2 separate regions of the Homo sapiens genome follow, and region 2 is linked to region 1. Evidence: fine-mapped QTL for protein levels in blood plasma. A gene starts in region 1. The other region holds a variant in brackets. All regions are shown on one strand. Distances are from middle to middle.

Region 1 (16,068 bases):
CATCTGTACCCATTGAGTATTCATTTTCCCCAAACCCCAAACCTTTTAGCTTCAGGCAACCACTAGTCTACTTGCTGCCTCTATGGGTTTGAATATTCTAGACATTTCATACACACAATCCTACAATATGTGGACTTCTGTGCCTAATTTCTTTTACATAACATGTCTTTAAGGTTCAACTTTCTTGTAGCATGCATCAGTACTTCATTTCTTTTCATGAGTAAATATTGTTCCATTGCATGGCTAAGGCACACTTTGTTCCTCCATTTATTGGTTGATGGATATTTGGGTTATTTCTACGTTTTGAATACCATGAAAATTGCCGTTATTTGCACTGTACGTTTATGTACAAGATTTGGTGTGGAAGTATTTTGATTCTTTTGGTATATACCTAGTAGAGGAATTGCTGGGTCATTGGTAACTCTACACTAAACTTTTTGAAGAACTGCCAACAGTTTCACATAGGATGTTATTTAGAATCAGGCAGCCCTATTGCAACAGTGAGGAGACCCCATGGCTTTGCTGGTATTCGATAAATCTAGCTGCTTCAGCCTTGAATCCATGTTTCCAGGCAACCCCAGAGTTCTGGGTGCCAGCCTCTACTAGCCCTGCTCAAGTTGACCAGTCCATATAATTGGCTGGTAACTTGGGTTCCTGGGCATCATTCTTGGAATTACTGGGACCTGAGATTCAGCTTCTTTGCAGTCTTCCCTCCCCAGGCCTTCATCTACAGACTCTCAAACATTCTATGCCTGTCCTAAGCTGTTGGCTGGAGTCCAGCCTCTGAAGGCTTGAGCACCTGGAATCATTATTCCCCATCCTCCTGAGTTCATGGTTCATCAGTGTTTGGAAACCTCTGTCAGGGTGCTGGATCCATGGAATGCATCCTCTTCTAGAATCACACTCACCTGAACCCTCCTCACGTTCACTGTTTCCTCATCCCCATGGGACTCTGCAATACTGGACCTCAGTATACACGCCCAAGGCCCAGCCTGCTCCTGGTCATGATGCCCTGTCATGGTCTCACCCACTCAAGGAAGGACCTAAATCACTCTGTGTTCTCTGTGGATGGAAGAACACAAAATATACCGTACAGGGCTCTCTCCTTTATGTCTTTCCCGTAGAGGTTGTATTTGCTGGCAATGTAGTTGAGAATGGCTCTGGTCTGTACCAACTTCATCCCATCAATCTCAACCATTGGTACTTGCTGGAACATCAAACTCCCATCTTTAGAAAGAAGGAAAAAAAAGGAACATGAAATTTCTATGAATCCCACTATTTCAGGAAGAAAAATGATGGTTGAAATGACTGAGGTTATAAAATGAAAAAGAAATTATTGCCTGCTAACCTCAAAAACGAAATAGTATTTTGATTTTAGCTGCCTGTAGTTCTTTTTCTGACCTGATTCCTTTGACCTTTTAGCCTGTTATTTCATTTATGTTTTTATTCCCCATCCAGGTACATAGTAGGTCCCTTGTATTTTACTTGCGTTGATTTATCGTCATGATATTTTAGGAAAAAGCTGAGACAGGTTACAACGGGAGTGCCAGAGAGATGTCACTTAAAATGAGAACTTCTCAGGGTAAGTCTCATGGTGTTCATGGCCTTTAAAGTAGGTTCTGAGACACAATTTTATGCAGAGGTCCCTTTCTGTGTTCTTCCAAGCCTACAGTATTACTACAATATGACCTTATCACATGACCCATGAAAGAAAACAACTCAAGGTAATGGCCACATCTATTTCTATTCTTTTCGTCTTATTCATGTTCTTGTGTGTCCTTGGATGGGGAAGGCTGTGTGGGATCCTGAGCTGATGACCTCAGCTCATTCACGGTGCCCCAAGCATGAAAACAAGGAAAGGGCATTCTCAGGGCACTGGGGATGGTTCCTCTAGCAGATACTCTGAGAGGTCTGGCCTTTTAGCCTGGAGATAGTTGCCAGACCTGTTCAGGGAGCCACATCCCTTCCACTTTAACCACCTTCTCCCTCTCCACCACCACAGCTACCACCCCACACACACATAGGCATCGCCTGGTGTTAAAATCTTCAACTGTGGCCGGGCACGGTGGCTCACACCTGTAATCCCAGCACTTTGGGAGGCCGAGGCGGGCGGATCACGAGGTCAGGAGATCGAGACCATCCTGGCTAACACGATGAAACCCCGTCTCTACTAAAAATACAAAAAAAAAAAAAAAACTAGCCTGGTGTGGTGTCTGGCGCCTGTAGTCCCAGCTACTCGGGAGGCTGAGGCAGGAGAATGGCATGAACCTGGGAGGCGGAGCTTGCAGTAAGCCGAGATCATGCCACTGCACTCCAGCCTGGGCAACACAGCGAGACTCCGTCAAAAAAAAAAAAAAATCAATCTTCAGCGGTACCTTCTCTACTAGATACCCTCATCAGAGGCACTTAGAGACTTGATCTTACCATTTCTTAACTTTCCCAAATCTTCTGCAGATCCTATAAATTTCTCTTCAAACTGGAAGCAGAAACAGTAAATGGGTTCTTGTTAGTTCGTTCCATAGCATTACAGACTTGTGACCTTGAATGGCCTCCATCTGGTACATAATTTGGAGAACATAAGATTTCTGAGTTTGGCAGGGGACACAGAAGAAGCTGGTCATGGCCGCTTGGAAATTTAGATTTTATCCCTCAAGAAACAGGCATGGGTCAGACCATGCTCATGCTCATGGGTCTGACAATGGGTCAGAACTGCTCAATCTTCTTTTTTATTTTATTTATTTATTTATTTTTTTGAGACAGAGTCTCACTTTGTCGCCCAGGCTTAAGTACAGTGGTATGATCATGGCTCATTGCAGCCTTGATCTACCAGGCCCAAGTGACCCTCCCACCTCAGCCACCTGAGTAGCTGGGACTATAGGCATGCACCATCACATCCAGCTAATTTTTTATTTCTATTTTGTAGTGCTGGGGTCTCGCTGTGTTGCCTAGACTCATCTTGAACTCCTGGGCTCAAGCAATCCTCCCCTATCGGCCTCCCAAAGTGCTGGGATTAAAGGTGTGACCCACTGCTCCTGGCCTGCTCCGTCTTTTACTTCACCTCCCCACGATCTCACAAATGTCCATGATTAGGGAGGGAACGTCACTGGAGGAAAGGCACTGAGCTGCAGAGCTGATGTCTGGGTGACAATGAAACAGGGTATTCATTTGTACACAGAAAACAACCTGGAATGGAAGTGTGTGGATTTCTTGTGTGCTTATTTCCTCATAGGTTTGAGAAAGGTGAGTCCCAAGCCCTCGTGAAGCATTGGAGAAAGTGCCGCCCCGAGGTTCAGGTCCACACAGCGCTGTGAGGCTGAAGGGGCGCGCTAGAAGTTCCTTTCACAGGACGCCACCTCACCTGAAACCCTCCTTTTCTGCTGACACCCGAGGGACAAGATCTTCTGAGTTTTTCCATTACTTACTCTGGAGGAAAACCCTCAGGCAGTTAGTTACTGAGGGACTCTGGTCTGGACTGGGAAGTGTTTTTCTCAGTGACACCTCTAGAAGGCAGCACTTAGCGGAGTCCCACAGACACCTCCCAGCATTTCCTGCTCAAACACTGGGAGGATGGCCTGGTAACACTGGGGAATGCCTGGGTGTTCTAGAAGCCCCCACCCCTGATTTTAACCACGTGTTTTCTTATCTGAGTCCTTGTAGACATGTATGTAGTCTGCCTTAGGGCAGGAATTGTGTCTACCTTGTTCACTGCCAATCCTCAGGACAGAACCTGGCACTTAATAGGTGCACAACAAAATAACCACTGGCTGAATATACTCAGTATTTAACAGGCAGTTTGTCACAATCCACTCCCTCCCTGACCTCATTGTGGTTTATAGTTTATGTTTAATGACATTTAGTTTCCATGTACTTAGCATTTTATTGTATAAATTTCTCATATATATAAAAAATACACATAAAATACAATGGTCCTCTTTGTTTCAATCATCTAGCTGCAGTAATCACCAACCCAAGCCTGTCTTTCATTTGTATGCCCAGCTTCTCTCCTCCTCTGTCATAATATGAAACAAATCTGAGGTATCATATTATCTCATCCTAAATACTTCAGTGTGTATCTCTGAAACATAACAGAAACATCATACCTAACATCACAAAATGACACTAAAAAATTTAACAGTAATTCTTTAATATTATCTAACATTCAATCAATATTCAGGTTTCTAATTTTTATGTGTCATAAGTTATATTTTATAGTTTGTTTAAATCCTAATGCAAATAAGGTCCACTCATTGTGATTAGTTAATTCTTTTCAAAATATATTTTAATTGTTCATGTGTTCTTTTTCATGTGCTCTTTAATGGACAGATTTTTAAATTTTCATTTGGTAAAATTTGTCCATTTTAAAAAAATAACTGGGGATGCTTTTATTTGAGGCCAAAATATTCACAGGTCATCTAGTATGGAAGTCTCTTGGCTTACTAAAATATTTTGATACAGTCAATTAGGTCCAACTTAAGATGACCTAACTTAGAACATACCTCCACTCCAGCTGCAGCCAAGAGCCACCGGATGGGCTCCATTCTGCCCCGTCCATTGAAGTAGTGAAGCTTGGGCTTCCCTGCCATGGTAACAGTCTCTTGGTTTCTCTAAAATGAATGAATGAATGCATGAATGGATGAATGAATGAGTCTAGAGAAGCAAAATGCACGCTAGTATATGAATGGTTGAACAACAGGAGTGTCTTCCTTCCTCATAGCAGGATTGTTTCCACCTCTGAATTCTGTTTGCACTAGACAGGTCCAACACCAATGTGACTTCACAGGGTCCCTCTGAGATTCTGAGGCTTTCCTGTGTAAGACCTTTGTTTTCATTTATTTATTTTTATGTTGGTAATTATTCCAGGCACTACTGACTTGCATTATGTTCCAACCTAGTTGGTGACTTCATGTGCCTTATAAAAACTATATGTTCTATTGATATATCTAGTTCTCCCCTCAAGAGTTCCCAAATTATTGAGCTAGAAGGGATCTAGCTAGCCCTTCCTCCAGGTTTGTAATGAATATGTTGAACCCCAAAGAAAGTATGTGCAATTTGCCAACTAGCTAGTTAGTGTCAAAGTCTGGATTAGAACCTAGGTCTTCTGACATTCAGACTAGTTTCTTCCTGTTATGCCTCATTATTGACTATTTACAGCCTGCAGACGTTACCATTTTTAGCTACCAATGACTTTCTTCACAGAATTGGAAAAAACTTCTTTAAAGTTCATATGGAACAAAAAAGAGCCCGCATCATCAAGTCAATCCTAAGCCAAAAGAACAAAGCTGGAGGCATCACACTATCTCACTTCAAACTATACTACAAGGCTACAGTAACCAAAACAGCATGGTACTGGTACCAAAACAGAGATATAGATCAATGGAACAGAACAGAGCCCTTAGAAATAACGCCGCATATCTACAACTATCTGATCTTTGACAAACCTGACAAAAACAAGCAATGGGGAAAGGATTCCCTATTTAATAAATGGTGCTGGGAAAACTGGCTAGCCATATGTAGAAAGCTGAAACTGGATCCCTTCCTTACACCTTATACAAAAATCAATTCAAGATGGATTAAAGACTTAAACGTTAGACCTAAAACCATAAAAACCCTAGAAGAAAACCTAGGCAATACCACTCAGGACATAGGCATGGGCAAGGACTTCATGTCTAAAACACCAAAAGCAATGGCAACAAAAGCCAAAATTGACAAATGGGATCTAATTAAACTAAAGAGCTTCTGCACAGCAAAAGAAACTACCATCAGAGTGAACAGGCAACCTACAAAATGGGAGAAAATTTTCGCAACCTACTTATCTGACAAAAGGCTAATATCCAGAATCTACAATGAACTCAAACAAATTTACAAGAAAAAAACAAACAACCCCATCAAAAAGTGGGCGAAGGACATGAACAGACACTTCTCAAAAGAAGACATTTATGCAGCCATTAAGAGCATTTATGACATGAAAAAATGCTCACCATCACTGGCCATCAGAGAAATGCAAATCAAAACCACAATGAGATACCATCTCACACCAGTTAGAATGGCAATCATTAAAAAGTCAGGAAACAACAGGTGCTGGAGAGGATGTGGAGAAATAGGAACACTTTTACACTGTTGGTGGGACTGTAAACTAGTTCAACCATTGTGGAAGTCAGTGTGGCGATTCCTCAGGGATCTAGAACTAGAAATACCATTTGACCCAGCCATCCCATTACTGGGTATATACCGAAAGGACTATAAATCATGCTGCTATAAAGACACATGCACACGTATGTTTATTGTGGCACTATTCACAATAGCAAAGACTTGGAACCAACCCAAATGTCCAACAATGACAGACTGGATTAAGAAAATGTGGCACATATACACCATGGAATACTATGCAGCCATAAAAAATGATGAGTTCATGTCCTTTGTAGGGACATGGATGAAGCTGGAAACTATCATTCTCAGCAAACTATCGCAAGGACAAAAAAACCAAACACCGCATGTTCTCACTCATAGGTGGGAATTGAACAATGAGAACACTTGGACACAGGAAGGGGAATATCACACTCTGGGGACTGTTGTGGGGTGGGGGGAGGGGGGAGGGATAGCATTGGGAGATATACCTAGTGCTGGATGATGAGTTGGTGGGTGCAGCACACCAGCATGGCACATGTATGCATATGTAACGAACCTGCACATTGTGCACATGTACCCTACAACTTAAAGTATAATAATAATAAATAAATAAATTAAAAAAAAAAGAAGTTACCATTTTTATGTCCCCCACCCCTCAAACTGTGAGCTCCCGGGAAGCAGAGAAGTTGTCATAGTCTTTAAGCACAGTGTAGTGCATTGCTCAAAGTTCAGTCCGTGCTTTATAGGATATAACATGGCTAGATATCTCAAGAGCAATCTTTTTTTTTTTTTTTTTGCCATTTGCCTATAGCGCTCACTGTTTTAGACTACAGTAGCATAGAGTAATTAAAAAACAAACTAGGGCTGGGCATGGTGGCTCATACTTATAATCCCAGCACTTCGGAAGGCTGAGGAGGGAAGATTGCTTGAGCTCAGGAGTTCAGGACTGGCCTGGGCAATTAAATAAAGTCTCTATTTAAAAAAAAAATTAGCCAGGATTGGTGTCCCACACCTGTAGTCCCAGATACCCAGGAGGCTGAGGCAGGAAGATCACTTGAGCCCAAGATGTTAAGGCTGCAGTGAAACATGGCCACATCACTGCATTCCAGCCTGGGTGACAGAATGAGACTGTCTCAAAACAAACAAAAAGCATGAAAAAAGCCAAGCTAGGATTATGGCAATAAAATAACCAATCCTAATTATGAAACCCACCAATCTGCTGTTTAAAAAGAATTATCAAAGCAACCAAACTCTCCCACATAGTAGAAACATCGTGACTACACAAAAAATATTTTTTTTTAATTGGATAAGTGCTTTGGCAGGGTAGCCCAGGGTAATATTTCATTTGGCAAATAGAAAGAACTTGCATATAGAAGGAATGTGCATGTTCTGTTGGACAGGGAATATAACAGCTTAAGAGGGGGTTATTATTATTCTTAGATCTACTTGCCTACTACCCTAAAAGTCCTATATATTTAGATTCACTTGCAATTTTGAGACTTTAAACCCTGCTCACCCTTTGGTCCCAGATACTTCGAACAAGAAGGAGGAGGAGGAAGAAGAGGCAGAAGAGGAAAAAGAGGAGGAGGAAGAAGAAAGAGGGCAAAGAGAACAAAGAGAAGGAGGGAAGAAGGAGGAGAAGAAGAAGGAAAAATAGCATGCTGCTTGGTGCTCAATCACAAAGTCACTTATATAAGCAGTAAACTAATCTGTGTAAAATCAATGATGGAAGTGTAAATTTAGATCCTGATTGTCAAGCATTGGTGATTGGTTTCCCATTTGGAAGTGCCAGCTCTAGAGGAATACGACCATCCAGATGTATTTTCTTTTCATTGATCAAGTGGTGCTCCCAAATGTGTGACCCTGCCAGCTTTAAATCTAGTATAATTGTGTGTTGACTCCTGTGAATCACAGGAATGAATCACACGAATACATGTTTTTAATAAACAGCTTTTCCATAAGCAACCTTTGGCATGTGGCCTGGCACTGATGTGGTTGTATTTTCAGATTGCCCACAATGATACCACTCTTACTTTTCTCATATCATCAAATTCTTTGCCCTTGTTTTCTAAATTGTTGAATATTATTTTTCTTTACCGACCTGTCCTTCAGGAACTAACAAACAATGCTTAAATTGTCTCCTAAGCACACAGAAAAACAGCAAGAACATAAAGTACTCACACAAACTAACACATTTAAATTTGTTTTTCTTAGTGAAGTAGACATGAGAACATTTATGAAGATGTTTAAGGTCAATACTAACTTGAGTAAAGTCTAGCCGGTCTCCGCTCAGCTTCTCAAGGCCACCTCCTGATGTGTATGTTAGCTGTTTTAATACTATGACAACTCCTGCCTTCTGAAGGGGGTGGAGTCTAGTTGGGAGCAGCCACTCCCACACCACTTTAGTCTCCAGAGTTCCATGATCTGCTAGGAAGAAAATGACAGCAATTAATTTCAAGGCTATCCATAAATGCACAAAAAGATTTCATATCTATTTGGCTGCCTCAGAAGGTCACTGGGGACCAAGTATCCTGTGAACACTGCTTAAGGAGGATCTTGTTAAATAGGCTGCAGATTTATGACAGATGAGAAAACATTGTGGGGAGAGGAGGAAAGTGTCATAGGAGAGTCATAGGAGATGTCAGGAAAGGGGACTTGATAAAGAGCATAGGGAGATTGCCTTCTAAATTTGTTTAAAAAGACTAAATTACAAATAATGTCACAAAATTTTATAGGCCCAAAGAATCTGGCTGAGTTGTCCTTGCCCTGGGCAGACAAAAGACCTCAGCTGCATTCCCCGAGGTCATTTGCAGATTTTTCTCTGTGACTTACCAGTTAGCCTTTCTCCCTAGCCCAAGGCTCTGCATGCTGTTTCTCCTATTTGGAGCACTCTTTTCTCCCCTGCTCCAAGGCATCCTGTGCTTCCTCTATCACATCACTCTTTCTACATTCCGTGCATCATGTCTGCTTTCCCCCTGTTGAGTATGAGCTCCTTGAGGCAGGGCCTCAAGTCCTGGTGGTTAACCAAGTCCCCGTGGCTAACCACAGTGCCTGGACATAGAAAGGGCTTAATACACGTATATGTAATTTCTACTTTTCTAAAGGAAATTGTCTGATATACATAAATCTGGAAAGAACACTACAAAGCCTTGATGTACCCATCACCTTGCTTCAAAAATTATTGACAATATTTGAAGCAAATCTCAGACTTAGTTTTTTTCCTCTATAATCTAATCTGTATCTTTTAAACTTGTGGGTGGGGGAGTTATTTATGTAACAGAAAAATTGCAAAACTAGTACAAGTTTCCCAAATACCCCTCACCCAGCATCCGCTAATGTTAACATCTTATGTAACCATAGTACAATGATTGAATCCAGGAATTTAATGTTGATACACTATTGACTAAACTCCAGGCCTTACTTGAATTTCACCAGTTTTTCAATCAGTATCTTTTTTCTAACCCAGGATCCCATCCAGGACCCCAGCACTGCATTTCGTTGTCACATCTCCTTAGTTACCTCCAAACTATGGCAGTTCCTCAGTCTTTTCTTGTCTTTCATGATGGTGGCATTTTTGAAGAGTAATGGTCAATTATTTTGTGGAATGTACCTCAATTTGGGTCTATCTGATGTTTTCTCATGACTCGATTGACGACATACATTTTTTGCAAAATGTCACAGCAGTTGTTCCAGTCTCAGCTGATCATTTCCACCCATAATTTCATATCCGAGACATGGTATGTCTTATTAATTTTGATCTTAACCTTAATCCCTTGATTAAAGTAGCGTCTGCCAGGTTCATCAACCGTAATATTACTATTTATCCCTTTGGAATTCATAAATATCTTGTGGAAGATACTTTGTGACTATAAAAATAGTCAGTTTCAAAATAAGCTTCTGCTCACTAACTTTAGCATCCATTATGGATCTTGCCTGCAGCAAATATTACTGTAGTGTTTGTCTAATAGTGACTTTCTATTTCCCTCATTCCATCTACATTTAATAATTCGAATTCTTCTGTAAAGAAAAGCTGTCTCTTCTCCTTTATTTATCCTTCCATTCATTCAATTATTTTCTTAGTACAGATTTATAGATATTTTATTCTAAAGGTTACAATCTAATACCATCGATATCTATTTTATTGCTCAAATTGATCCACCTTTAGCCTGTGGGAGCTCCTTCAGATTGGCTTCTGTGTCTTTTATGGCAAACCTCCTCTCTTATTGTGAGCATTTCCAGATACTTTCTGTGCCAAAGATGTTCCAGGCTTATCTTGTCTTGTCTGTGTCCCAGCCTTGAAGTCAACCATTTCTCCAAAGATCCTTGTTTCCTTTTATTGGGGAAGGTATTTGAAAACTAGGATCTCGGAACTATGTGTACTCATTGCTTCTGGGTTTTCAATGCTTCTAGGCTCTCCCCAGTGGGAAATATATGTATGTATATTAACCCACACATACATACACTTCTGTATGTATTTATATAGCTATCTGTATAAATATGATAAAAAACCATGAGTTCATACAGATACCTACTATTTCAATTCAATAGATTCATTTAGCCGTGTCCTTTCATTTCTAACCTCTCTGACAAGTGAGAAACCTGGCTATGATTATCTAAAATATACAATATTTGCATATTTGTTTAATCCTAGTACAAGTAAAATAGTTGCAGAATTGCCAATGCATACCTCTGTGAAAAACAAATCTACTAACAAGAGTACAGTATTTTTCTTTCCTTCTTTTTTTTTTTTTTTTTTTTTTGGTCTTAAGCCTTACAATATCCAGTCAAAATTGTGGTTTTCTGTGGTTATTTAGGTCAGTTCTTTTCCCCCCCACCTCCTTCAGTTTGGTAATCTATTCATTTGAAATGCTGTTAGGTTGTTAGTGTTTGTATATTCCACTTTGCGGTTTCCTTACATCCTGGTTGGTTTTAATTAATTACTTAGTTTTCTGGTATGCAAAACTTTACCATGATTCTAAGAGCCAGAGTTATATGAAAAAGTGTCTTTGGAGACACTGTCTCTCTCTGTCCCTAATTCCCATTCCTAGTCCCTCTTTTTCCCACCCATTTCTCACTCATCCCCCTGTAGACAACAAATCTCACTAATTTCTAACTTTCCCCTTTTGTTTTTCTTTTGCTCAAGTACATATTTCCTTACAACCCCTTCTTTCTTACATAAAGGGCAGCATACCATAATACTTTTTTGCTCTTTGTTTTGTGTGGTTGTTGGTTCCCCCACCCTTCACTTAATGATAGGTCCTAGAAATCACCACCATCTAAGTTCATAGATGTCTTCCTTTATTTGCTACAGCTGCAAAATACTCCATCGTATGAATGCATCATAGTTTATGCAAGCACTCTTTATTTATTTATTCATTTTTTTGAGACAAAGTCTCACTCTGTCACCCAGGCTGGAGTCCAGTGGCATGACCTCGGCTGTCGGCAACCTCTGCCTCCCAGATTCAAGTGATTCTTCTGCCTCAGCCTCCCAAGTAGCTGGGACTATGGACTACAGGTGCGCACCACCACGTCTGGCTAATTTTTGTATTTTTATTAGAGACAGAGTTTCACCATATTTGGCCAGGCTGGTCTTGAACACCTGACCGCATGATCGGCCCACCTCGGCCCCCCAAAGTGCTGGGATTACAGATGTGAGCCACCATGCCTGGCCTGCAAGCACTCTTGTATGTGTGGACATTTAGGTTGTTTCTAATGTTTTGGAATTACAAACAATGCTGCAATGAATAACACTGCATATGCATTTTAGTATTGCTGGAGGTATACTTTAGTATGTTTCTTTAAAATGTAAGTGCTTTTTTTCTGGACATCACCATTCTATTCTAACACTAAAAATTTATGTTTCTTAATTTTGTCAAATAACTGCATGCACACTTCCTCAATTGTCTCATAAAAATTTCTTTGCCATTGGTTTATTTTTGTCAGGACCCACGAAGTCCATACATAGAATTTGAGGGACATTTGTCAGTATGTTTTGCAGAAATGGATGAGATACAGAGTAGGGCAGAGGGTGTGGGGATTTGTGAGATCTCAAAGCCCAGCCTCATATCCTCAGTTCCTCAAAATATGCGTGGAGCTGTGCAGGTGTTATTGTTCATTGGTGGTGCAGGAATGGGGATCCAGCAGGCCATGCCCCACACCAGGAGGTCACAGGACTATTGTGCAGACACAGTGTCCCTCAGGTGTTATTAGAGGCTCACCAGGACTCTGGGAGGGCACAGAGGAGAGGCCAAAGCTCCCAGAAAGCAATGAGATAGGAGTTAGATGTGGCCAGTGGGAAGGAGCTTGCCAGGTAGGGCTAGCAAATGCACCCAGGCAGGGAGAAAGGAGGCCTTGCTGTTCCCAAGGGGCTTATTGAGCTGGAGATGACAGAGTGAGGACTGTGGTGAGGATGCATCCTGCATGACATGGAGACTCACTGAAGAATTTAAAGAAAGACAGTGATATTCAGATTTGTGTTTGAGCAAACCTACTCTGGTTGTAAGTGAAGAAGAGACTAGAGCGAAGTGAAGCTGCCAGCAAGGAGACCCACTGGGAGGACCCTGGGGTGGTGGAGATGAGAAACCATGAGGCTCTGACCCACACAGTGGAAGGAGATGGGACAAGGAAAGAGATATGTGAGGTAGTTAGGAGGTAGAGTTGACACGGCTTGTGTCCCATTCTGTGGGGGGTGTGAGGAGAGAGAGTGGAGAGTGTGTCCCGGTCACTGGTTAGGACTCCTATAACACAGGCACATCCCATTCATGGAGTGAGACAGGATGGTGTCAACTTCCATACCTGGAGCCAGCCCTGGGAAGAGCCACTCTGATCCGTTTTCCCCTGGGACAGCAATCCCTCCCACGTCTCTCTGAGATAGAGAAAGGTCTGGGCAACTCTAGTTGGGCACATTAACTCCGTTAGGTGTGGCCAGAAGAGTTTAGTGAAATCAGCAACTGAACTGCAGGGCAGGTTTCTGGGAAGATACTCTGCACAGACCTTTTTCCTGGGCATCAGACCCCCGATCCTGTACATCTGCCTTCTGGCATGTTCACCTACCCACCCCTCAGGCAACTCCAACTGACCCTGTCCCAAACTGAAATCAGGTTTCAAATCTCAGAGATTAAAGCTCCACACTGTTGGTCCACCCAGTTGCCCAGGCTGGAAATCTGCCATCAACCCTTACTCCCCCATCTCCCTGTGTGTCCTACCATTTCCTTCTCAATCTCTGTCCAGTCAGCAGGTTGCCCTCTCTTCTGGCCCCAGTGCTGCAGTGTTCTGCACACTGGACTTGGTGTTCTTGGGCCTTCTGCATGATTTTCTGGCTCAAAACCTTCAGTGAGCCATTAATGCCCTCAGGGTGAAATCCAAACTCAACAGAGTTTACAAAGCCCTGCATAACCCACCTTCTTTATTTGTCCAGCCTCATGTTGGCCACTCTTCCTCCCTCACCTAGCCATGCTCACTTTCAGACTTTCTAGCCCTCTTGCCCTCACTGCCTTTACTTTACTACCTGATTGGTTGGGTGTGAGCTAAGTTGCAAGCCCCGTGTTTAAAGGTGCATACACTCAACTTCCCAGCTAGGCTTAGGGATTCTTAGTCGGCCTAGGAAATCCAGCCAGTCCTGTCTCTCAGTACCCCTTCTCAACAGGAAAACCCAAGTGCTGTTGGGGAGGTTGGCTGATGACTGCTCTAACTGCTTCCTGCTGAATTGGGGCATACTAGGGGTTGTGCAGTTGAGATTTCTTCAAGAGGGGTGCCTTCAATGTCATTAACATCGAAGCATGGGCTAGCAGGCCAGTCCAGAGGTCTGCGGTAGATCTTAGCCATGGATTGCATCTGGGGCTCCATTTGAAGAACAATTTTTAGGTTTACAGCTTCGATTCTGGAAGAGACAAACTTAACAAGGCGGTTAAAGATATAGGGATTGAAATGTATGGCCTGCAGTGCAGGGGATTATTTCTTTGGCACACTTCACAGGCCCTGACTATCTGCTTGATAGTTTTGAAAAGGCCTGGTCCAGTAAATAATAATTTGGCCATCTGATGGGTGCTATCAATGCCTAAGTGAAAGGTTTGGTGAAGGGTTTTAAGTAATTTCTGTTGGTTAGCTGCAGGCAAAAGTATTTTTCCTTCTTCAGTGGCTAGCCATCCTGAGGGGAGGAAACTATGTCCTTGTGAGGTTCCCCATTCTATTTCTTCTTCTGAGTACTGGGGCTTCATTTCCCAGAAGGGATTACCCCATACTAGAAGTCTTTCTATAAGCATTTCTAATGGAGAGTCCTGCCTTGCAGCTCTTTTGGCTTCAATATCTGCTTGGCGGTTCCCTTCTATTTCTCTTTCCTTTCCAATGACCCTGGCAGTGTAAGACTGCCACCTGTTTAGGTTTCTGTACAGCCAATAATAATCTCCTAATGGCTTCCTGATGTTTGATAGGTGTTCCCTCGGAAGTTAGGAATTCCCTTTCTCTCCATATTGCTGTGTGGGCATGGAGGACTAGGTAAGCATACTTAGATCCTGTATATATGTTTACCCTTTCTCCTTCTTCTAATGCTAGTGCCCAAGTGAGGGCTATTAGTTCTGCCAGCTGAGCACTAGTTCCTGGAGTGAGGGGATTACTTTGAAGTATTCCATTATCACTGACCACTGCATACCCCGCTTTTTGAAGTCCTTTTTTCTACAAAGGAACTTCCATCAGTATACAAGTTGAGGTCAGGATCAGTCAAGGGAACCTCTAAAAGGTCCCCTCAAGTGGCGTATATTTGAGCAATTACTTGTTGACAGTTATGTTCTATCTTTTCTTCATTGTCTGGGAGAAATGTGGCTGGGTTAAGAGTTGCACAAGTGCACAGTCACAGCACTGGCCCTACAAGTAATAGAGCCTGATATTTAAGTAAATGGTTGTCTGACAGCCACAAGTCTCCTTTAGCAGTGAGTATGCCATTCACATCATGAGATGTCCACACAGTAAGATCTCTTCCCTGTATTATTTTAACTTCTTCAGGTACTAAGACTGCTACTGCTGCCACTACCCATAAACAATGAGGCCAACCCTTGGCCACTACATCAATTTCCTTACTCAGGTATGCCACAGGTTGCAAGCTCATCCTTCAGACCGGTGTAAGGCCTCCTAGAGCTATTCCTGTTTTTTCTGTGACATATAAAGAAAAGTCTTGCCCCATTGGCAAACTTAACTGGGGCTTGGTTTAGGGCCTTCTTTAGGGCCTGGAAAGCCACTTCTGCTTCAGGTGTCCATCTTACTAAATGGGCATTGGCTTTCTGAGTTTTCCTAATTAGTGTATATAATGACCTGGCTATTTCACTGTACCTGGGAATCCATATTCGGCAGAAGCCTGTTATGCCAAGGAACGCTCTTAGTTGCTTTAGTGTTTTGGGATAAGGATAAGCCAGTATAGGCTGGATACATTTCTCACTGAGGGCCCTGGTGCCTTTGGACAATTTTAGCCCTAAGTATTTAACCTGCTGTGAGCAGAGCTGAGCCTTTGGTTTGGAAACCTTGTAGCCACAGGTGGCGAGGAAATTTAAGAGCACTTGGGTGGCACTGGGCACGGTGGCTCATGCCTGTAATCCCAGCACTTTGGGACGCCAAGGCAGGCAGATCACAAGGTCAGGAGATCAAGACCATCCTGGCTAACATGGTGAAAACCCGTGTCTACTAAAAATACAAAAAATTAGCCAGATGTGGTGGTGGATGCCTGCAGTCCCAGCTAATTGGGAGGCTGAGGCAGGACAATGGCATGAATCCAGGAGGTGGAGGTGGCAGTGAGACGAGATCGCACCACTGCACTCCAGCCTGGGTGACAGAGCGAGACTCTGTCTCAAAAAAAAAAAAAAAAAAAGAGCGCTTGGGTGGCCTGATGGCACAAGGTTTCTGAATGGGCAGCTAAAAGTAAATCATTCATGTACTGAAGGGCAAGAGTGTCCAGGT
Region 2 (16,068 bases), 150 kb before region 1:
TTTATACTAAAAAAGTATTGCTTGTTTATCTAAAATTCTCATTTATTTTGCTGTTTTGTATCTTATCTGCCAAATCTGGCCACCCTATTTTTATGTTCTTTCCTCTCTGCATTGCTCAAATCACCCTTCCTGGCCTCTGGGCCTTTGCACATGGCATTTGTCCTGACTGGAATACTCTACTTTCACTTCCTGCTGTATTTTCTCTATTGTGTCTTTCCCTGCATTAATTTGACATGATGTATTCAATATCAGATTTCCCCTTAGACCTTGAGTTCTTGAGAGCGGAGCCTTCTTGTTTGAGTCCAGTCCTTATTGTCTGGGACAAAACATGGACATCATAGGAGCTCCTAAAATAAGATAGTTTAAAAATTTACATGGAAAAATTCTAGCAAATACAAAAGTAGAGGGAATAATATAACAAGCTTGAAGGTACCCATGACCTGCATTCATCAATTGCCAGCAACATTTTTTTATCTATGCCTGGCAGTGGATTAAGTTATGTTGGCTTCCAAGAAAGAGAGGTCCATGTCCAAATCCTTGAGTCCTGTAAATGTGACCTTATTTGGAAAAAGGCTCTTTGCAGATGAGGTTAAGGAATTTGAGATGAGATCATCCTGGTATATCCAGATAGGCCCTACATCCAATGACAAATGTCCCTGCAACGTAGAGAATAGAAGACACAGACACACAGAGGGTGAGGTGCTGGAAGCCCCAGGCAGAAAGTAGAGTGATGTGGCCATGATCCATGAAAGTCCAGAAATGCCAAGAGCCGCCAGAAGCTGTAAGAGGCAGGGAAGGATTGTTCTCTAGTACTTCCAGGGGAATGTGGCCCTACTCACACCCTGACTTCAGACTTCTCGCCTTCAGAATTGTAAGAAAATGCCTTTCTGATGTTTCAAGCCACCCAGTTTGTAGGAATCTGTGACAGGAGCCACAAGAAAATGATACAAACTCCCACATACTCCCTCCACTACCAGGGGATTCTTTTCAAGCAAATCCCAGACAGCATATCATTTCGTCTGTAAATACTAGTATTCATCTCTAGGAAGGAAGAACTTCTTTTCTAAACATAATCACACTATGATTGTGTTTAATATGATAATCTCTTATCATATTAAAATTCTATAATTCCCTAATTTCATCAAAGCTTCAGCATTCTAGTTCATGTAAGTGTCCCATAAAAATTTCTTAGCAGTTTGTTTATTTTGGTCAGCATGCAAGCAAAGTCCTTACAAAGCATTTGAGGGATATGAGTCCATTTTTTTTAGAAATTAATGAATGAATAGAGACAGGCAGAGTGTGTGGGGGTTTGTGAGTTCTCAAAGCCCAATCTCATATACCCAGGTTCTGGAGTTGCATAGAGCTGTGCATGGGTCTGTGCAGATGTCATTGTCCATTGGTGATGAAGCACTGGGGATCCAGCAGGCCAAGCCCCACACCACGAGCTCACAGTACAGGGGAGCAAACACAGTGGCCCTCAGGTGTTATTAGAGGTGAAGGGGTGGCCTGCCCCTCCACAGCTGTGGGTATTTCTAGTCAGGTGGGATGAGAGACTGAGAAAAGATATAAGACACAGAGACAAAGTATAGAGAAACGATAGTGGGCCCAGGGGACCAGCACTCAGGATACCAAGGACCTGCACCAGCACCGGCCTCTGAGTTCCCTCAGTTTTTATTGATTATTATTTTCATTACTTCAGCAAAAAGGAATGTAGTAGGAGAGCAGGGTGATAATAAGGAGAAGGTCAGCAAAAAACGTGAGCAAAAGAATCTGTGTCATAATTAGGTTCAAGGGAAGGTACTATGACTGGACGTGCACGTAAGCCAGATTTATGTTTCTCTCCACCCAAACATCTCAGTGGAGTAAAGAATAACAAAGCAGCATTACTGCAAACATGTCTTGCCTCCCACCATAGGGCGGTTTTTCTCCTATCTCAGAATTGAACAAATGTACAATAGGGTTTTGTACCGAGACATTCAGTTCCCGGGGCAGGCAGGAGACAGTGGCCTTCCTCTATCTCAACTGCAAGAGGCTTTCCTCTTCTACTAATCCACCTCAGCACAGACCCTTTACGGGTGTTGGGCTGGCGGATAGTCAGGTCTTTTTCATCCCATGAGGCCATATTTCAGACTATCACATGGGGAGAAACCTTAGACAATACCCCGCTTTCAAGGGCAGAGGTCCCTGTGGCTTTCCACAGTGCATTGAGCCCCTGGTTTATTGAGACTAGAGAATGGCAACGACTTTTACCAAGTATACTGCTTGTAAACATTTTGTTAACAAGGCACGTCCTGCACAGCCCTTGATCCCTTAAACCTTGTTTTCATACAACACATGTTTTTGTGAGCCCCAGGTTGGGTCAAAGTGGCTGGGTCAAAGTGGCTGGGGCAAAGCTACAAATTAACAACATCACAGCAAAGCAATTGTTTAAAGTACAGGTCTTTTTCAAAATGGAGTCTCTTATGTCTTCCCTTTCTACATAGACACAGTAACAGTCTGATCTCTCTTTCTTTTCCCTACAAGAGGCTCACTGGGGCTCTGTGGAGGGCAGAGGACAGCCCAGTGCTCCTGGGAAGCAATGAGGTAGTGTTAAGTGTGTCCACTGGGAAGGAGCTTGCCAGGTAGGGGTAGCAAATGCACCCAGGCAGGAAGGCAAGAGGCCTCACCATGTTCAGAGAGTTGACTGGGCTGAAGATCAAGGAGTGAGGACAGGTGTGAGGATGGATTTTATATGCAGTCAGGATTCCCTGAAGAATTCTGTGATTTTTTTTTTCCAATTTGCATTTTAGAAAAACTACTCTGGTTGTAAGTGGAGAAGAGACTAGAGCAAAGTGAAGCTGCAGGTAGGAAGCCTGTGTGTCTGTCTGCTCCCTCAACCACCTCTGCCAACTTGGGGAAGCTCCCTCTAAGAGGAGGAGAGCTCAAATTGCAGAAGCCCAGGTGTCCTGGGAGAGATTAGCATTACAGGACCAGTATGGGGGTGGAGCTAGAAAGCACTCCTAATCTAAGCACTCTGGCACAGTGACACACCAGGGAAAAATGATTTTGCATATAGTTATTTGTATGTAATTCACATATACCATCTGTATCTTGGCAGCCCAGGTCTGAGTGGCACTGAGGGAACTGAGAGAAGGCTTATGCCTGGGACCCCATGGAGGCTTAAGGAGCAGAGTGAGGATAAGCCAGGACCACATGCACTGTAAGAGACAACAAGGTGGCCTGAGAGCAGAGGGTGGGTCTGTTTGCTCTTCAATATTTCCTCACCTCCTAGAAAACGGAGGAATCCACAGCAGACAGAATCGTTGTTTTGCAAATGCATTAGAAAGAATGCTTTTATCAGAAATAAAATGACTGTTCAGGAAAAGAAGAAAATGTCTTTATGCCATTATCCAGGATGGTAACTCTTCTCCTGTGCATACCTGAAAATGTCAGAGGTGCATTTTTACATTGGCATTTTAATAGATTGTATGACAAATTGTATGTTACAGGGCAATTCTTGGAAAAGTCAAACAAACCACATAATTTATAGTTTCCATTTTTACTGAATTTGTAATTCCAAGAAAATTGTTGGCTAGGAGGAGATTGGAAAACTGAATTCACATCAGATCCTAATGAGAAGAAATCAATTTTAACTAAGTGGGTGAATAGGAGTTGTATTATTTAATTAGCATATAATTTGAAAGAGTTCATTAGCTTCACAACAGGCACAATCAACACTTAGGTAAAGCACTTAATTGTTGCAAAACTTTAGAATACTGGTCTTGCATGTTCTTGACCTCTATGGCTGGTTTATTAAAACCTGAAAATCTTCCTTGATTCTTCTAAAGATTTCTCATCCATGGGAGGCTTCCTTGGGCTGCCAGGCTGTAGAAACTTCTTCACTGTGGGCAGGTTACTGATTCTGGTTTTCAGGGCCTGTAATCCACAAAGCACAGCCTCACTAAAACAACAAGTCAAGGGCTGACACCCCCATTAACATGACCCAGGGAATCTGAGTCCCTCCTGCCAAAGACCAAGTGAGTCGCTTCCACTTGGGTGAAGGCAGAAACAGACACCCAGTGAGAAAGGAAGATAAGAGGAAGAACATGTAGCTCACTTTATTTTCCCCAAAGATGTCTTGAAATTTTAATCAGTTCAGTCATCCCTATCTTTCTTCTTACATATTAATCCTATAGATTAGTGACTCTTGTATAAGACAAGAAAAACTAATGTGCTTGTTTGATATCAGCACAGATCAGTCTCTAAGCAGAAGTGAAAATATGGGAAAATGAGTTGGAAAGGAAAATGTTATAGAAAATAGTAAAGACAAACCATGGGACCACCTTTTCTCAGTGAGAGATACATTGTCGGGGGCAGAGTGCTGGAGAGCTGGGCAGAGAGGAACAAAATGTCTGACAGCAGGAGCCGGAGCCCAGGGAGGAAACCAGATGGAAAGGGCTCTGCTCAGACTGACTCAATGTGGGCACATATGGGATAAAGGACATCACAGAGAACTCAGGAACAGAAACCACACTGAAATAGAGGGATGGGGAGACATGCTGGGCCCTGGGTCCTTTCCATAATAAAAGGCAAAATACTCTTTGCGGGGTAGCATGCACTACAAATTTCCTTTCCATAACAAAAGTGTTTTCATTCCTCAAAATTGGAGCCTGGAAGCTCATTTTGGAGACCTTGGGGCACCAAAGGCCTGGAGAAGGCTGGGGTCAAAACATGCTCAGTCCCAGGGCCCAGATACAAGATCCCAAGATGGGAGATGTGGGTCTGCCTCTCTGAAGACTGTGAAATGGGTCACCTTCAGCAGAGGGAAGCTGGAAATAAGGCTAGAGTCAAGCTCTTCCACGTAGTAGAGAAGTTCCACCAGGTGAATGTCAGCCCGGCTCAGCTTGTTGCCAACAAGGTAGTCTTGTCCGTGGCTCTTTAAGACCTGGAGAATGGGAGGAATCAGATCAGGAACACATGCCCACCCAGGCTGGGACCCCTGCTTCTTTCAGAGCCTCTCCACCCTGACTTTCCCCACCTCTGTTGCCTTACTGCATGGATGCAGAAATCCCGAGCTTTCTCCACATTATCTGAATGAATGAGATAGTAAGAAGTGTAACTGTACTCACTCCTCAGTTGGAGCTCAGCCTCCCATTTTCTCTTCTCATCCACATCACTGTGGCGTCTACACTACCCACCCAGCTTGCTTCTTCCACATGGGCCAAGGGCTTAGCACCTGCCGCCGCATGTTCTGTCTGCCCCAGGCCCTGCAGTGTGGAGCCCTCACATTCAGGATGTGGCTCTACATTCTGCTGTCTCCCGCTCCAATCTCCCTTGGGCAGTGACTCCACCATCGTGACAACACTCTTCCCCCAGAAGGAGACTATTTCAGAGTCCTCATTTCTCCTTGTCTGTTCTCCTCATTCCCTGCTCTATCTCCCTGAGATCTGTAGGAAACCTGGGTGAACCTGAATTCATCATCTTTTTTACAGCATCGACTCTGGTTCCTAAATGGCACTATGTTATAATCTGCAAGCTGAAGCGTTTAGGAGTGAACTGCTCTGATGTCTGCAACTTACTATAAAATGCATTTTACAGAATCTTCCTCTGCATCCCACAGTCACTCTCCTTTTAAAAAATACTGATCCCTGAAACACTGCAATATTCTCTGGTTGGGCAATTGGTCTCCTGTCTTCCTGCATATGGTGCCAGAATGTTTTCTGATGGATCACTTTCATCATGCCCCTGTTCAAAGTCCATGGGGTTCCATAGACTGAACAGCAACTCTAGTGTGGTCCAGAGCCTTCCACAGCCCACATTCTACTTATGAACACAAAATTCTGTTGAACAGATAATTCCATATTGGGGTTCAGTAAATTAAAATTTTACTGGAAGATTATAGCTTGGGTATAAGTGATACAATTGTTTCTCCAAGTCTATTTTCATAAAATGCCTTGAGAGTCAGAGTGCTGCATTGGTGTCCAGGAAGTATCACTGAAAGTGAAGATCAGTGCCCCAGGAATGCCCAGCCACTATTTTTCTACTGGCTTCTAAACTCAGTTCCCCAAAACACTGAACAGCTTCACTTACTTTTTCAAAGGCAGGGAAGTAGCGATTTTTTGTTTTCTCTTGGATCAAGGCAAGCTTGGCATCTTGTTCCTCAGGTTGACTAAAGGGCAGAAGAAGGATCATTTCACCCAAATCTGCTATACCTTCTATATACATATCAATCCTGAAAGACAAAAACAACCAAATGGTCAAATATCTTTTGCCTTAGATTTTATAGGTTTATAAAAACCTAAGAGAGTAGAGTATCAGGTGATGGCAAAATAATTCACCTCCAATGAGTGCCTTTTATAGTCTAGTCATTATGCTCTGAGTTTTACAGGTATATAGTCATTATGCTCTGAGTTTTACAGGTATATTAACATTTATTTCTTAAAACAGCCTATCAAGGTAGATAGCTCTCTAAATTTTGTTACACGCATGACCTAATACAGGAAGAAGATCATCGGTGGTCACAGTCATGAGAGAAATTGGTGGAATCACTGCCAGTACCCACTGATGCTGTGCCAGGATTTATCATCTCCATTGTGGTTTGTTCTGTGCATGAACTTAGTGTGAGTCAAATGGCCAAAGACCTGCTTCCTAAGTAATCCTAAGAGAGTCCCTGGCACAGCCATCTCAGCCATATTCCTTGTCCTCTCTCATCATTTTACAGCTCCCAGGGCTGCTTCTATGCCCCATATTTGCAGTTCTTCCAATTACACCCATGAAAAACGTTTCCACAGCCCTCTCCATGTGCTGTTGCCCAACTCTAGCCATGTGTGCCTTTCTTAAGAGCCAACCCCTTCCCTGGTGAAATTCTCTGTACAGTTACAACCGTGCAAACTTTTCTTCTTTTGTGTCAAACTGGAGTTTCACAATACTTTTTAAAACAAGAGCTTTACTGATGCATATTCACATACTATAATTGCCACCTCTTATGTTATACTATTGAGTGGTTTTCAGTGCATTCACAGAATTCTGTAAAAATAATCACAGTCTAATTGCAGAATTATTTTTGTCACCTTGATAAGGACATCTGTACCATTAGCGGTATTCTTCATTTTTCTCCAAGCCCCACTCCTTTAGCCCCAGGCAATCACTAATCTACTTTCTACCTCTATGGATTTGAATATCTGGACATTTCATATTAAAATAATCCTATAATATGTGGCCTTCTGTGTCTCGTGTATTTTATGTAACATGTCTTTATGGTTTAACCATCTTGTAGCATGCATTCGTACTTCATTCCTTTTCATGACCAAATATCTTTCCATTGCATGGCTAAGGCGCATTTTTCTCCTCCATTTATTGATTGATGGATATTTGGGTTGTTTCCACTTTTTGAATTCTATGAATATTGTTATTTGCATTATTCACTTATGTAAAATATATAGTGTGGATGTATTTTCGATTGTTTGGGGATATACTTGTTAGAGGAACTGCTGGGTCATCGGTAATACCATATTAAAGTTTTTGAGGAGCTGCCAGCAGTTTCATTCAGGATTTATTTGGAATCATGCAGTCTCATCACAACAACAAGGAGACCCCTTGGCTTTGCTGGTATTGAATCAATCTGGCTGTTTCGGCCTTCTATCCATGTGTCAAGGTAACTCCAGTATCCTTGGTGCCAGCCTCTACTAGCCCTGCTCAAGTATTCCAGTTGATATAATTGGTTGGTAATTTAGGTTCCTGTTCATCATACTTGGAATTACTGGGACCTTAGACTTGGTTTCTTTGCAGCTTTCCCTCCCCAGTCCTTCATCTACAGACTCTCACATATTCTATGCCTGTCCTAAGCCATTGGCCGGGGTCCAGCCTCTGAAGTCCTGAGCACCTGGAAACATGATTCCCCATCCTCCTCAGTTCATTGGGTTTATGAGAGTTTGGAAACCTTTGTCAGGGTGCTGTGTCCATGGACTGCATCCTCTTCTAGAATCACCCTCGCCTGAACCCTCCCCATGTTCACTGTTCCCTCATCTCCATGGGACTCTGCAATACTGGACCTCAGCGTGCATGCCCAAGGCCCAGCCTGCTGCTGGTCTTGATACCCTGCCATGGTCCCACCCACTCAAGGAAGGACCTAAATCACTCTATGTTCTCTGTGGATGGAAGAACAGAAAATATACCGTACAGGGCTTTCTCCTTTATGTCTTTCCCATAGAGGTTGTATTTGCTGGCAATGTAGTTGAGAATGGCTCTGGTCTGCACCAGCTTCATCCCATCAATCTCAACCATTGGCACTTGCTGGAACATCAAATATCCATCTTTAAGAGGAAGAAAAAAAAGGAGAGTGAAGTGTCTATGAAACCCACCATTTCAGGATGAAAAAAAATGGTTGTTGAAATGACTAAATTTGTAAAACGAAAAAGAAATTACTGCCTGGTAAGAGTTCACTTGAAACAACTTTTTTTTTTTTTTTTTGAGGCAGAGTATCATTCTGTTGTCCAGGCTGGAGTGGAGTGGTGTGATCTTGGCTCACTGTAACCTCTGCCTCCCAGGTTCAAGCGATTCTACTATCTCAGCCTCTCTATAGCTGAGATTACAGGCATGCACCACTGCACATGGCTAATTTTTGTATTTTTAGAAGAGATGGTGTCTCACCATGTTGGCCAAACTGGTCTCAAATTCCTGAACTGAAGTCATCCACCTGCCTCAGCCTCCCAAATTGGGATTACAGGTGTAAGCCACTGCACCCAGTCCAAACAATATGTTTATAAAGCTTCCTGTAGTTCTTCTTTTTCTTAAGAAGTTTCCTTTTAGTTTTTATCCATTTATTTCATATATGTTTTTGTTGCCCCTCCAGATACATAGTGGGACTCTTGAATTTTTTGTGTTGATTTATCTTCATGGATATTTTAGGAAGAGGTTGGGACAAGTTACAATAGTACTGGCAACAAGATGTCATTTAAAACAGGATGTTCCCAGAGTAAGTCTCATGGTGTTTATGATATTTAAGGCAGGTTCTGAGAGGTTTTTATATAAGGGTCCCTTTCTGTGCTCTTCAAAGTCTGCGATATTGCTACAGTGTTACCCAGTCCCACTCCCCCCATGAAAGAAAAAACTCAAGACAGTGGCCACATCTATTCCTCCTCCTTTTGTCTAATGCATGTTCTTGCATGTGCTTGGATGGAGAGGGCTGTATGGGATCCTGTGCTGATGACCACTGCTCACTCACAGTACCCCAAGCATGAAAACAAAGAAAGGGCTTTCTCAGGGGTGGGAGATTGTTCCTCTAGCAAATACTCTGAGAGGTCTGGTCCTTTAAGCCTGGAGAGAGTTGCCAGACTTGCTCAAGGAGCCACATCCCTTCCATTTTAACCACTTTCTCCCTCTGCACCATGTACAAATACCATGCCCCACACCCATAGACATTGCCGGCTGCGCAAACCTCCCCGTGTACCTTCTACTAGATACCCTCATTAGAGAAACTTAGAGGTTGATCTTACCATTTCTTAACTTGTCCAAATCTTCTGCAGATTTTATAAATTTCTCTTCAAACTGGAAGCAGAAACAGTAAATATGTTCTTGTTAGTTCATTCTATTATAGACCTGTGAAATTGAATGGCCTCTATCTGGTGCATCATTTGGAGAATATAAGATTTCTGAGTTTGGCAGGGTACACAGAGGGGGCTAGTCATGGCCATTTGGAAATTTAGACCTAATTCATTGAGAAAAGTGCATGGGTCACAGCACATAGCTGCTCAATCTTCTAGTTCACTTCACCTCCACCTTGATATGAATGTCTATGATTAGGTCATGTTTTGAGAGGGACATCACTGGAGAAAAGGCACTGAGCAGTTCTTCTAGTTATGGTGTTGTCATA[T/G]CTTAGGAAAGCCTGTGTCTCCAAGTGAGATCAGACCACAACCTTGTGTGTCCCCAGCATGAGGCATGACATGGGCTAATGGCCATCAAATATTCTGCCACCAAGGAGCCTCTGCTGTAATTTGTATCGCCCCACTTCTCAGGAACCCTGCTAAGGGTGACATAGGTCGCCACTGTTGCACAGCTTTCACACTTGCAACTGTAATTTTCTCTTCTGAAGTACGTGAGACACAATAGGGTAAAATTCTCAATTTAATAAAGGAATTAGGGTCCCACACTAGCATTATTTTTAAGGAAAACCTCTGGTTTCTGATGTGGTTTTGTGGCATTGGGGAATGCTTGTGTGTTCTAGAAGCCTCCTCCCCTCATTTTAACCACGTGTTTATTTCTCTGCATCCTCATAGACACGTAGGCTGCCCCAGGGCAGGGACTGTGTCTGTCTTGTTCACTATCTCCATGACCGAGTACAGAACCTGGAATTAATAAGTGCTCAAGTAAATAATTGCTGTGAATGTAGTCAATCTTTAATAGGTAGTTTGTTACAATCCACTCCCTTCCATCTCTCATTTGTAGTTTGCATTTTACCTCTAATTACAATCATTTTTTAATATTATGCATTTTTATTTTTTTATTGTGGAAATTATGAACATGAATAAATATAAACAGAAAAGCATAATGATTCTCCTTATACTTCTCACCTAGAATCAATAATTATCAATCAAAACCAATATGGTTTCATCTATATGCCCACCTACTTCTCCTCTTGTAATAATTCCAAGGAAATCCCAGATCCATATGATTAATCCTTAAATACTTCAATGTGTTTTCCTAAAACACATTAACTATTCTAAAGACAGCCATAGTACATTATCACACATGAAATATTAACAATAATTATTTCATGTCCTCAAATATTCAATCGATATTTGTGTTTCTAATTGTTGTATAAATGCCATAAATTATTTTTTACAGTTTGTTTAAATTCTAATCCACTTAAGTTCTGCACTTTGTGATTAGTGTCTTAAATGTATTTTAATATGTATGCTTTTAGAGGAGAAGAAATTTTAAGAATTAATAGGTCAAATCTGTTCATCTTTTTCTTAATTACAGTCCCTTTTTATTTAAGGCACAATGCTTCAGTTAGTAATCATCTCATAGTTTCTGTGGGAAAAGTATGTGATAACGCAATCGTAAATCTGACTTAAGATGACCTAACTCAGAACCTACCTCTACTCCAGCTGCAGCCAGGAGCCACCGGATGGACTCCATTCTGCCCCGTATATTGGAGTAGTGGAGCTTGGGCTTCTCTGCCATGGTAGCAGTCTCCTGGAGGTTTCTCTAAGCCTGAGTGAATGAATGAATGAATGAATGAATAATTGAAACGATAGAATCAAAAATGTACTTTAGGATGTATGGTTGAAAACCACAAACAATGCTGAAGAAGAACCTGCCTTCTTCATGACGGTGTTGGAGGAGTTCCCGGAATGTTTTCTTGGCTCAAATTATTACCCAGCAGTGGCCACCCTCAGATTCCAGCAAACCAGTCTCAAGTTTTCACTGTTTAACTCTGAATTTTCTTGGCAGCCTAAGAGGTGAGAGTATGTGGTAATAATACATGTATAGGAGTTAATGGGAAGAGGAAGAATTCAAGAACTAATATTTACTGAAAACTTCCTAGTGATCCTTCCTCAATGCTAGTCCCTTTCAATATTTTATATCTTTAACCCTCCTTATAGTCCCATGAAATGATTATCTCCATTTTTTCGTTAATGAAATGGAACATCAGAGAAATACAATGTTCACAGTCACACTCCGGTTGGTGATGGACATGAATATCTACACCAAGGACTAAAATGAAATCATGCCTGGAAGCCAGCTGGGTGAAGGCCCTGGGAACCCATGAACTGGCCATGAAACCAGAGGATGTCACTGACAGGGAGGACCGGCTGGGAGCTAAATCACTCTTCAGCTCTTTGGCTGTGAGACTGCATTTGATCAAAACCAGAAATTAGGCCTCAGACTTGTTTAACTGTAGCTAGAAGATCCAAATTCTTTCAAGAGACAGAGATTGTTTATCCCTTGCTTCTTTTGGAATTCTGTATTCTAACTCTATGGGGTGCATTTTGTTTTATAAGCTGGAAGAAGAGATGTTGCTGCATTAATTTTGCAATATGGAAGGAGCTAGCATTTGTTCAACATCAGTCACACACTGATCATTCTTCTAAACTTCTCTTTGTTTTATCCTACAAAAATTACCTAAGGTTAATGTGGTTGTTATTCTCATTTTACATTTGAGGATACTGAGGTTTTTAAAGTAACTTGCTCAGAGTAAATGATAGATCTGGGATCCAGGGTCACTGCTATTAAAAACCAAATACTGAGTCTTATTTTCTATGTTAGTGTTTCTCAAATATGCATGGTAATCTCTCAGCAGATTGTGAAATCCCATTACTTTAAAAAATAAATAGAAAAGAAAAGAATAGAAAATATCAGTGAGCATGACATGTTGAAAGGTAAGTAATGTTTCATGAGTTGTTAGTTTCAGTTATTTGTATACTGTGTGTATGGATCTTTGCATGTGTGCATGCTCACTTGGTCATTGTAAATGGTTAGAGACTGGGCTTATCAGTGAAATTTGATAGCCCTTGCTCTATGCCAGGCTGTTTGGGTGGTGGAATGTAGCAGAGTATCAGAGAATGAAAACCAGTGGCTGCAGAGACAGATGCAACTAATTGTATCATGAATGTGAATGGAAAGACACAGGACTCATTGAAAGAAGGAGTTCCAGTGCCAGGACTTAGGAATAGTTGCGTTTTATCACCAAACCCCCAGCTCTGTTATTAAACATTAAGATTCTTCTTGCAAAGTTTTGTGGTTGTTGAGTGTGGAACAAAAATATACTTGCCTTTAACAACTAATGTATTTATTTGTTTTTTTTTTTTTTTTTTTTTTTTTTTTTTTTTTTTTTGAGACAGAGTTTTGCTGTTTTTGCCCAGGCTGCAGTGCAATGGCGCGATCTTGGCTCACTACAACCTCAGCTTCCCAGGTTCAAGTGATTCTCCTGCCTCAGCATCCTGAGTAGCTGGGATTACAGGCACATGCCAGCACACCTGGATAATTTTGCATTTTTAGTGAAGACAGGGTTTCAGCATGTTGGACAGTCTGGTCTCGAAAGTCTGACCCCAGGTGATCCACTCACTTCAGCCTCCCAAAGTGCTGGGATTACAGGCATGAGCCACTGCACCCAACCTCAACTAATGTATTTCTAAAAAAGTATGCATGATTAAAATTAGGCATCAAAATCTTTTAAATGTCTACATTTTAAAATATGGGAGTCAATAGTTTAACCTTTGGAAAGTAAAGAATTCTTTGAAATCATACTGAATCAACTCACCTGTTTTGTAATTAGATATTTTGACATTGTACTTTCTATGATAACTCCAGGAGTAAATTAAAGTAACTTGGGAAATGGAAATAGCATAATTCGACAGAATGAAAGGGAGAGTGAAGTTCACATGAAAGCGTAGGGTGTGCTTGTTTAATTGTTATGTACTAGAGTTCACAGTGTCATAATTCCAATCCCCAAAATAAACTCTCTTAGCCATTGATCGAGGATCATGTTTCAAAAGGAAGTGAAATTTTATCTTACATAATATTTTATCACAACACTCCAGCTGATAATTAACATATCACTTCCTCAATGTGAGGTTTCCAAGGGTCAGGCTAAGACTGAGACATAAGTTACCATTGAGCTTTGTTGGGTCAACAGAAAATGAGAACCAGAGAGCTCAAGGATTTGCCATGGGTCATACACACATGCTCCTCATTCATAGTCAATATCTAGGGAGTGTGTTTACCTTCTGCAACAACCCTGGGAAATGGCTCCTATTATCCTAATTAAAGATGGGTACACTGAATTTCAGAGAGCTAAAGCACCTGTCTCATGCTGCACACGTGGTGAGTGTTGGGTCAGCCTGAACTTCTGATTGCAGGTCCGGAGCTTTTCCACTCCACCTCATAACCTGGCTCTCAGCTCCTGTCTGAGAAGTTGTTTTGTATTTTCCTATTCAATGTATATTAGCCAAATAAATGTTGGAAGGAGAGGGCGAGAGGGGAACATCTAATTCCTGAGTTCCTCCTGTTAGCAACTTTTCAGGGGCTTGCTTGGAAGAAAAAACTAATAAAAGTGTGCCTTTCTCTACTTTGACAACCTAAAAACCAGAGTGAGTTGAGGACTAGTGTAATTACTTTACATCAATAATTAATTTACATCAATTAAAAAATGGGCTTGTTTTGAAAGGACTATAAGGTCTCATATTTCCAGGAGTAAATTAAAGGAGTTACGTCTCTGAGGTTGTCCCAGTGACACTGTTTCTTATCAGAGAGAAGGGAGAATGAGATAAACCATGACTCCTTCCATTATGAGATTCATAAATGCAGTAGGTTGTTTAATCTCTGAGCCTCAATTTTCTCTTCTTAGATTAGAGATAGTTATTTCTACTTTTGAGGGTTGTTGAGAAAGTTAAATGAGATAATGTAGAAAAAAATCATAGTAGGAACACAGGGTGTTTGCTCTTGTCCCAGTGCTTGGAAGATGGGTGAGGCTCTGGACACATTGAGTAGCCCATGGATCTTCTTTCTTTGATCTATCTATCCACCAATTATTTTACCAACCAACAATCTATGTACATGTATCTGTTTATAATCTCTGTCTACCCATCCATGTATGTATTATTTTATCTATCAATCGTTCTATGTATCTATCTCTCTGTAATCTGTCTCTTCATCATCTATTATCTATCTTGTATCCATTTCTCTGGTTCTCTATATTTTGTCCGTAGAACTCTAGTAGGAATAAGATTTTATATGAATCCAGACTTATATCAAATCTGTCATATGATGGCTCTCTGTTTCTCTCTCTCTTTGCTTTTTAGCTCCTGTACAGAGGTCAATGATATTCACTAATCAGCCCACCTGGATTAACAGGAAGTTTTCAGTGAATGTCCAAGCAGTGGGGCACATCGGTAACACAGCCTTGCTTAGCCCCATGAGGTCATGTAGTCCCATGGTTCTCAACCAGGGGGATTTTGTTCCTCTGCTCCAGAGGACATTGAGCAAGGTCTAGAGACATTTTGGGTTGCTATATCTGCAGAGAGGGAGGGGGGCTACAAATCAGATAGGTAGAGGGCAGGGATGTGTGGGGAAAAGAAAGAGAGATCAGACTGTTACTATGTCTATGTAGAAAGAAGTAGACATAAGAGACTCCATTTTGTTCTGTACTAAGAGAAATTCTTCTGCCTTGAGATGCTGTTAATCTGTAACCCTACCCCCAGCCCTGTGCTCACAGAAACATGTACTGTGTGGACTCAAGGTTTAATGGATTTAGGGCTATGGAGGATGTGCTTTGTAAACAAATGCCTGAAGGCAGTATGCTTGTTAAAAGTCATCACTATTCAGTAATGTCAAGTACCCAGGGACACAAAACACTGCGGAAGGCCGCAGGGACCTCTGCCTAGGAAAGCCAGGTATTGTCCAAGGTTTCTCCCCATGTGATAGTCTGAAATATGGCCTCGTGGGAAGGGAAAGACCTGATAGTCCCCCAGCCCGACACCCATAAACGGTCTGTGCTGAGGAGGATTAGTAAAAGAGGAAGGCCTCTTTGCAGTTGAGATAAGAGGAAGGCATCTGTCTCCCGCTTATCCCTGGGCAATGGAATGTCTTGGTGTAAAACCCAATTGTATGTTCCATCTACTGACATAGGAGAAAACTGCCTTAAGGCTGGAGGTGAGACATGCTGGCGGCAATACTGCTCTTTAATGCACCAGATATGTTTATGTATGTGCACATCAAAACACAGCACATTTTCTAACCTTGTTTATGACACAGAGACGTGAGTTTGTTCACGTTTTCCTGCTGACCCTCTCCCCACTATTATCCTATTGTCCTGCCACATCCCCCTCTCTGAGATGGTAGAGATAATGATCAATAAATACTGAGGGAACTCAGAGACTGGCGCCAGCGCAGGTCCTCCATATGCTGAGCCCCGGTCCCCTGGACCCACTTTTCTTTCTCTATACTTTGTCTCTGTGTCTCTTTCTTTTCTCAGTCTCTCATCCCACCCAACAAGAAACACCCACAGGTGTGGAGGGGCAGGCCACCCCTTCAGGGATGCTTAGAAATATCCTAGAGTGGGCAGGACAGATCTCCGTTCAAAGAATT

Direction of the effects. Positions count from the first base shown, and alleles are read on the strand shown. Strength reflects both the effect of a copy and how common the allele is.
For the plasma level of the protein whose gene starts at base 8,447 in region 1, G is the high allele of the variant in region 2 and T is the other (strong association).

Evidence for each region. A credible set is the group of variants that fine-mapping cannot tell apart. PIP is the chance, under the fine-mapping model, that this variant and not a neighbour inherited with it causes the effect. Protein levels are from antibody-based Olink assays in UK Biobank. Linkage for the fine-mapping came from a reference panel and not from the study's own genotypes, which makes the PIPs less certain.
Region 2: its variant is the best candidate, but not a certain one, in a credible set for the plasma level of the GSTA3 protein (UK Biobank, PIP 0.90).

Annotation. Positions count from the first base shown.
Region 1 is chr6:52,901,252-52,917,319 of GRCh38, forward strand. GSTA3 (glutathione S-transferase alpha 3) reads right to left here and starts at 8,447. Exons shown (of 7, transcript NM_000847.5): 1 at 8,390-8,447; 2 at 4,497-4,604; 3 at 2,425-2,476; 4 at 1,095-1,227. The coding sequence starts at 4,583. It overlaps LOC105375091 (a long non-coding RNA gene), which reads left to right. Exons shown (of 4, transcript XR_926877.2): 3 at 1,516-1,582; 4 at 3,230-4,503. RefSeq lists enhancers at 7,951-8,643, 8,644-9,337.
Region 2 is chr6:52,746,785-52,762,852 of GRCh38, forward strand. GSTA2 (glutathione S-transferase alpha 2) reads right to left here. Exons shown (of 7, transcript NM_000846.5): 2 at 11,077-11,193; 3 at 9,474-9,525; 4 at 8,159-8,291; 5 at 6,070-6,211; 6 at 4,793-4,924; 7 at 3,303-3,915. The coding sequence starts at 11,163. The coding sequence ends at 3,793. Among named protein-coding and RNA genes, the nearest start is that of GSTA2, 8.7 kb to the right of the region's middle. The variant T/G (reference allele first, on the strand shown) is at 9,851.